Linked DNA regions of Homo sapiens: all the other regions are linked to region 1. Evidence: fine-mapped expression QTL. A gene starts in region 1. Each other region holds a variant in brackets. All regions are shown on one strand. Distances are from middle to middle. Region 1 holds the start of IL16 (interleukin 16). Region 2 overlaps IL16 (interleukin 16). Region 3 overlaps IL16 (interleukin 16).

Region 1 (2,669 bases):
GGGGAGCCACAGAGACGGCAGCTCCCAGGCTGCTTCCAGGAACCCAGTGGGAGCTTGAACTGGCCTCCTGGGACAAAGGGGTCGTCTTTGTATGGCTCAGCCTGAAGTGGGAGGATTTCACCTGATAAGGGCAGGAGGAGAAGATGCTTCCCTGTATTCCACAGGGAACCTCTATTCTTATGCTGTTACCTCATTCTCCAGCTACAGAAAGCAAACTTGCTATGGACCAAAAAAGAAAAAAACAAACAAACAAAAAACAAAAACAAAAAAACACCAATCCTGGGACCTACCAATGCAGGAATTAGTCACGGGACCCTTATCAAAAAGCAAGCAGAGTGAACACTTTTCCCATGGTCAATCTGCAGAGATGCCCACCCGCTGTGCCCACTTTGGAGAAAAGGAGTCTGGCCAGGCAGCAGAGAAGCCCCCATCAGGTGCCCCGTGGCCTTTCTCTCTCCTGCTGCCTTCCTTTCCTCCACCTCCTTCCACACCCCATTGCCAAGGATGAGACGAGGCTGAAAAGTCAGAAATCTCAGGACCAAATTCTCCCCGTGCTGCAGAGCCAGGTCAAGCGATATCCCTCTGCCCGCTCTGGCCTTCTGAAGCTGCTTCCTCCTGTACCTAACTGTGACATGGTGACACAGAGATTCCTACCAACACAATCCTGGCTTCTGCTCCTGCCCCTGACCCCAGCACCACTTCCAAATATGAAGTTACGTCCTAGCAACCAAGACCCTCCCCATTCAGGTCAGAGAGGCCAGCTTCCTCCCTCCGGTAACGGCCACCTGGACAGAGCAGCTGCCTGACAGACATTCACTCACCTGGTGCCCACCTACCTCCCTATGCACAGTCCCCCGGGGCTGCCATCTCCCTTGCTCCTCTCTCCATCTGCCCAGCAGGGATTGCAGCACCACTTATTCCCGGACAGCCTGTGGCCCAGGCCTGGGTCAGAGCCGGCAAGGATTGAGAAATGGACGCTCAGTTCTCAGACGGAGGCCGGCCTTTGAGTCAGATCCCAGGCTCCGATAGTTGAGATGCCGTGAGTAGGACACAATATTCACCACCTGCTCTGGACAGGTGACTCAGGACAAATGTGTCCCACCTGGCATGGATTTGCTCGAAGACTCCTGATCTGAGCCATCTGACTGCTCCACGTGAAAAGGCTTGATCCAAAAAGGGGGGCTGCCAGTGCTGAGAAGCTCAGCCTCAGAACAAGGTCCACCATCTGCTGGGCTGGCCGGCAACACCCAGGAGGCAAACCCAGTGCAGAGCCACAGAACCACAGTGAGGTTCCTTGGTCCAGCCCAGTTGCCCCTGCCTTCTTTGGACAACACAGAAATGACTAGGAGAGCCGAAAGGTAGCAGACATGACTCGGTGCCTGCAATGTGCCTGGCACGCTGCTAGGAGCTTTCTATAAACCTCATCACATGCTGGAAGCTGTGGCACGTGCCTATAATCCCAGCTACTCAGGAGGCTGAGGCAGAAGGATCACTTGAGCCGGGGGATTCAAGACAAGCCCGGGCAAACCATAGCAAGAACTCCTCTCAAATTATATAAAAATTTAATAAAAAGAGGAAAAAAGTCATCACATACAATCCTGCCATCAATCTGGTAAATATATCACCTGCTTTGCAGACAAAGAAAGCCACTGCACAAACGTTCATTAAACACCTACTACGTGCCGTGGAATTTCCCCAAGGTCACACAGTTAGCAAGTTAGCAAGTCAAAATCCACCTGTCTCCAAAGCCCAGGCTTTTTCCATAGCATTTCATTTCTTGTCTGTGCCACCCTTTCCCAAAAACAACAGACTGGCTCTCAGAAGCTTATGTAACTCAGTGGTCCTCAAGCCAGCTGCATCAGCAGCATCTGCTAGAAATGCAAGTTCTCAGGCCCTGGCCTAGACCTCCTGAAGCAGCACCTCTGGCACTCTGTTTTCACAAAGCCTCCAGGTGATTTTGGTGCGTGCTCAGGTGCGAGAGCCCATGACCTAACGTATACAGAGCATGTTGAAAACTGCAGCATAAAAGAATGGGGCACTTTTGTGTGTGTCCTGTTGGCATTAGTGTCATGAGACCAGAGTGCCTTTCCCCCACGTAGCCCCTTGGAGAATCTAATCATAAGGTGGCATTTAATCCATCTGCCCCGCAAAGAGCATCCCACACATCTCTCCTAAGCTCAGTCTCTGTGAGCCCTGTGTACATGCTAGGCTGAGGTTTTTGTATGGACCTCTCTTCTAAAGAATGGAATGTTTCCCAACGCTCAGCACCAAATGTTTCAGGGCTTCCTGGGGGCTTTAATGAGGGTGTAGGTGCAACCTGTAGGAAGCCCTTGAAATTCCATGCAAGGCTGCAAAGATCTAGCCGCTGCTGCTGGAGAACACAGGCCCACGGTCCCAAGGGAAGCACGGGAGGAGGGAGCACTCTGGGGATAAAGCTGCCTTTGTCAGCAGGCACAGGGGACATTGTAGGGCTGAGTCTGGAGTGAGTCTGGAGTGCAGTGAAGGAATTTCTAAATTGCAGAGAGTGAGCGCCTCTGTCAGTGTCGCCTGCTCAGCTCACACCCACAATCTCTCTCACAATGGCCTGGGTGCGGTGGGGCCAGGACAGACTCAGGCCCCACTTCCATCTTGCTCTGGCAGAGAGGCTGAGGAGCAATTCAGCACCCCAG
Region 2 (2,669 bases), 51 kb before region 1:
TTAACAAAAGGATATGAACCAGGAAAACATACTATTGGGGTGAAAATATTCAATGGTTTTTCTGTTATTCAGGAAGAGGGTAAAAGTAAAAATTAATAACTTTTGCACTTTGAAAACCTTCATATACATGCCAAATTTTCTGAGTTCACCATAAAATCACAGAAATAGGTCCAGGTGCGGTGGCTTATGTCTGTCTGTAATCCCAGCACTTTGGGATGCAGAAGCGGGCAGATCACTTGAGCTCAGGAGTTCAAGACCAGCCTGGGCAACATGGCAAAACCCCAACTCTACTAAAAATACAAAAATTAGCAAGGTGTGGTGGTGGGCGCCTGTAATCCCAGCCACTTGGGAGGCTGAGGCAGGAGAACGGCTTGAACCCAGGGGGTGGAGTTTGCCGTGAATGGAGACTGCACCACTGCGCTCCAGCCTGGGTGATAGAGTGAGACTCTGCCTCAAAAAAAAAAAAAAAAAAAGAAAGAAAGAAAAAAAATCACAGAAATAGAATTAGAAACAGAATCAATAGAGGAGGAGAAAGGGAATGAGAAAATATAATCAATAAAAAGATAAGAAAGCAGAGAATAAAACAGGGAAAATGGAATAAGTATTAAACATGAAATAATTTTACTTATAATTTAAGAGGTTAAATATAATTTTAAAGATAAATATAATTTTAAAGATAATTTTTAATAATTTTAAATATAATAATAAAAATAATTTTAAAGAGATTCATCTAAGAAGCAAAGATTGTCAAGACAGATTTACATTGTAAATCCAACCATAAACCATTTAAGAAATATACAGGTAAAATAAAAGAAGACAAACAGTTCAAAAAGAAAAAGTCATTCACATACACATTCACACATACATAAGTAGGTGTGTGTGTAGTTGAAAACAAAAGAATAAAAACTAGATAGAAGTAGATAGATACAGACATAGACAGATAGGTGGGTAGATAGCTCAGACAACTGCTAATAAAATTAAAGCTAGTACCACTTTATAGACAAGGTAGATTCAAACAAAAATAATAGAGATAAACTCAGGATATAAATTATAACTGCTTTCAATCATAAAGAATATATAACAATTCTAAATGTTCGCACCTTATAACATAGCCTCATAATGCTGAAATAACTAAAAGGAAAATCTAGCATGAGATTTTTAACCGACTCCTTAAGAAACTGATAGATCAAGCAGACAAAAAGCAGTAAGGTTAATAGCTATATACAATGTCTCTTTAAACATAAACAAAATATGAAAATAATCTTATACGGGGTCATCAAATAATTCTCAACAATTCTGAATAACTGGAATGACCCACTCCATGCTTTCTGACAACACCACAATTAATTATAAGGCACTTAAAAATGTTAACTGGGGAGAGAGAAAACAGATGAGTTGCTGCTAGAGGTTAAGGATGGTGGGAAGAGGGGTGGGGTGTGATTCTGAAGGGTGGCATTAGGGAGATCTTAGTGGCGAGGGAGCACTTTGGTATCTTCGCTGAAGTAGAGGTTACAAGTGATAA[A/T]ATAGCATAGAACTACACACACACCATAGCAATGTCAAATTTGTGGTTTTGATGTTTTACTATAGTTATGTAAGAGGGAACCAATGGGGAAAACTGGGTGAAGGGTACATGAGATTTCTCTGTACTATCTTTGCAACTTCTTGTGAATATGTAGTTACTCGAAAAGAAAAAGGTTTTGATTTTTGTCTTCGAGGTAACTGGAAAATAACTACATATTTGAAAATCAAGAAACATACCTCCAAATAACTCATGGGTCAAAGAAGAAATCATACTGGAAATTTAAAGGCATTTAGAACTGAATGATAATAAAATTTTACATATTAAATCTTGTGGAATGCAGCTAAAGATAAAACAGTGCTTACAGGAAAAGTTATCTCAAGTGCTTATATTAAAAAGGAAGAAAAGCTGAAAATAATGGGCTAATCATCAAAGAAAGTAGAGAAAACGATAAAGATATGGACAAAATTTATTAAATAAAAATACACGTATAATAGGGGAGTTGACAAAATTATAAGCTGGTTCTGTGAAAAGATTTTAAAATACTGATGACGCTCCAGCAAGGTCACTCAAGATCAAAAAAAAAAAAAAAAAAAAGGAAAAGAAAAGAAAGAAAACACAAATAAAATGAGGGTTGAAAGGGGACACAATTACAAATACAGTAAAGATTAAAAGATGACAAGAAGATATTACAAATAACTGTATAGCATAAATTTGAACAACTAGATTAAATGAGAAAGTTCTGAGGAAAATAAACTGTATCAAAATCAACTCAAGAAAGACAAGGAAACTTTTAGGGGCCTGTAAAAATTAAAGAAACAGAGTGGTTTTAACTCTTTCCACAAAGAAAACACTGGTACCAGATGGTTTTAAACAGTAAGTTCTATAAATCATTGAAGAAATAAATAATTCCAAACCTAGAATACGAATTCCAGAATGTAGATAATGAGAAACCACACCTCACATTTTAGAAGGGTGGCAAACTTAGTTACCTGGCAAGTAAAAAGAAAACATTGATATCAGTAAAAGAGATGAGCATGGTATCAGTGTGAGGTCAGTGTAACCTTGGAACCAGTACAGGAGAAAAATTCCAAGGCCATCACACTCATGAATATAAAAATTACAAATAAAATCATAGTCGACTGAATCC
Region 3 (2,669 bases), 93 kb before region 1:
CTTCCAGACTCCACTGATGCCTCTCCTTTCCAAACTTGGTGTTTTCCACAGCCTGGGCCACAGCTTCTTTGAGTTGCTGTTCAGAGACCTAGAAAATATCAGTCATCTCCTCAAACAAACAGTAGAAGCTCCTGCATCAGGCTCCCAGCCCCGTACCAGCTCCAAAGCTGGGCCACTGGATTCTAAATTATTTTATTTCAACCCACTCTGCAAATAGCTGATGAATTCCATTTCCAGAAATACCCCGGGAATCAATGGTTCCTCAGTATCTTCTAGATAAAGTCCAAAGTCTATCAATGCAGGGGTTCCCAAGGAGGCCCCCTCAACTCTCCAACCTTCTCCCCACTACTTGCTGGAAAATTCTAGGCAAAGTTACCACTTCATAGGTTATCTCTATGAGCTAGTCCGTTCTTGGCAATGCTGTCATGACATCATCATTATCAACAATATCGTAATAATCACAATCACTATTATACTGTCTGAGCTGTGACTCACAGTTTATTATCACTTTGGAGTAATAGTTAAGAGTATGAGTCCTAGAGTCAAAAAGGCTTGTGTTCTAGTCCCGGTTCCTCTACTGTCTAGGTGTGAACACCTAGACAAGTTACTTAACCTCCTGAGCCTCCATTTCTTCCTTCTGTAAAATAATAACAATAATAAAACCCACTTCAAAATGAGGACAGGTTTTTTAAAAATAAATTATTTGACATCAAAAGTACAGGAAACAAAAAAATAGATAAATTGGACTATGTGAAAATCAAAAACTTCTGTGCATCAAAAGGACATCATCAACAGATTGAAAAGGCAACTCATAGAATTGGAGAAAATATTCGCAAATCATATTTCAGATAAATAGTTGAGTTGCAGATTATATAAAGAACTCCTACAACTCAGCAACAACAACAACAACAAAACAACCTGATTAAAAACTGGGCACAGAACCTGAATAGACATTTCTTCAAAGAAGATATACAAACAGCCAAAAAGCAAATGAAAAAATGCTCAACATCACTAATGATTAGGTAAATGCAAATCACAACCACACTGAGTTACCACCTCACACACATTAGGACATTAGGATGGCTACTATAAACAAAAAGAAAAGAGGCTGGGCATGGTAGCTCATGCTTCTAATCCCAGCACTCTGGGAGGCTGAGGCAGGCAGATCACTTGAGGTCAGGAGTTCGAGACCAGGCTGACCAACATGGTGAAAGCCCATCGCTACTAAAAATACAAAAATTAGCCTGTGCAGTGGTACACACCTATAATCCCTGCTACTAGGGAGGCTGAGGTGGGAGAATCACTTGAACCCAGTGCAGTGAGCCAAGATCGTGCCACTGCGCTCGAGCCTGGGTGACAGAGTGAGACTCAGTCTCAAAAAAAGAAAAGAAAATAACAAAGTATTGGCAAGGATATGGAGAAATCGGGACCCTTGGGCTCTGTTGATAAGAATGTAAAATGGTGTAGCCACTGTGGAAAATAGTTTGAAGGCTCCTCAAAAACTTAAAAATAGAATTACCATATGACCCAGCAATTCCACTTCTGGGTATATACCCTAAAAGAAGGGAAGTCAGTATCTCAGAGGAATCTGTACTCCACGTTCATTGTAGCATTATTCACAATAGTCAAAAGGTGGAAACAACCCAAGTACCCAAAAACAGATGATAAACAGCATGTGATACACACACACGCACACACACACACACACACA[T/CACACACAT]ACACATACTAGAAGATTATTCGACCTTAAAAAGGAAGGAAATTCTGGCCCGTGCTACAACATAAATGAACCTTGAGGACATTACGCGAAGTCAAATAAGGCAGACACAAAAGGACCCATTTTATATGATTCCACTTCGATGAACGTAGAGTAGTCAAAATCACAGAGACAGAAAGTAAAATGGTGGTTCCCAGGATTTGCTGGTAGGAGAACATAGGGACTTGTTTAACTGGTAGAGTTTAAATTCTGAAAGATGGAAAGAGTTCTGGAGACGGATGGTGGCAATGGTTGCACAACAATGAGAATGTCCTTAATGCCACTGAACTGTACACTTAAAAAATGGTTAAGATGGTAAATTTTATGTTATGTGTATTTTACCACAATAAACAACAATAAATAAATCATTTAAAGTCTGCGGCACAATGCCTGGCAGATGGTAAACTCTTACTAGAGGAGAGTTACCATCCACAACAGTCCTGTAAGGTAAAGACCACTCCCCTATGTCAGAGTTGAGGAACCAGAGGCTCTTGGAGGTTAGATGAGTTGCCCAAATTAACCATAAGCAAGCAGCAGACTGGACACATGCCAGGCATTCTGCTGCTGGGCCTGGCTCTCTTCTCTCTGCCCTATGCCTGTGCCCCTGGATCTCCACGGCCTAGGGTGTCTTCGTCTTTCTGCTGCTCTAAACCTTACCTGTCCTTTCTGGCCTGGCTCCCTTATCTGAGCAGCTGGAACTCCAGCTCCCTCACTCTCAAGGCCCTCACCTCTGTGGCCTCTCTGTGTGTGTCCCATGTCTCTGGGAGAATGCACATTCCTTAAGCCCAGGGCTACAGCATTTGCCCACAACCTGACGCCCTACTCCACTGATTTTCTGCCGTAGTCCTAAAAGCAGCAGGAGGAAATGACAAATTAATTGGGACCTCTTTCTTTTCTTGTATTGTCCAGAGATTTAGGCCAA

What was found. PIP is the estimated chance that this variant, and not a neighbour inherited with it, causes the effect.
Region 2: its variant is the best candidate, but not a certain one, in a credible set for the expression of IL16 in subcutaneous fat (GTEx, PIP 0.74).
Region 3: its variant is the best candidate, but not a certain one, in a credible set for the expression of IL16 in monocytes (Quach 2016, PIP 0.55).

What each region holds. Positions count from the first base shown.
Region 1 is chr15:81,195,305-81,197,973 of GRCh38, reverse strand. IL16 (interleukin 16) reads right to left here and starts at 1,095. Exons shown (of 19, transcript NM_172217.5): 1 at 822-1,095.
Region 2 is chr15:81,246,524-81,249,192 of GRCh38, reverse strand. The region is part of intron 2 of IL16 (interleukin 16); the gene reads right to left. Among named protein-coding and RNA genes, the nearest start is that of IL16, 51 kb to the right of the region's middle. The variant A/T (reference allele first, on the strand shown) is at 1,523.
Region 3 is chr15:81,287,872-81,290,540 of GRCh38, reverse strand. It overlaps IL16 (interleukin 16), which reads right to left. Exons shown (of 19, transcript NM_172217.5): 11 at 1-88. Among named protein-coding and RNA genes, the nearest start is that of STARD5, 35 kb to the left of the region's middle. The variant T/CACACACAT (reference allele first, on the strand shown) is at 1,712.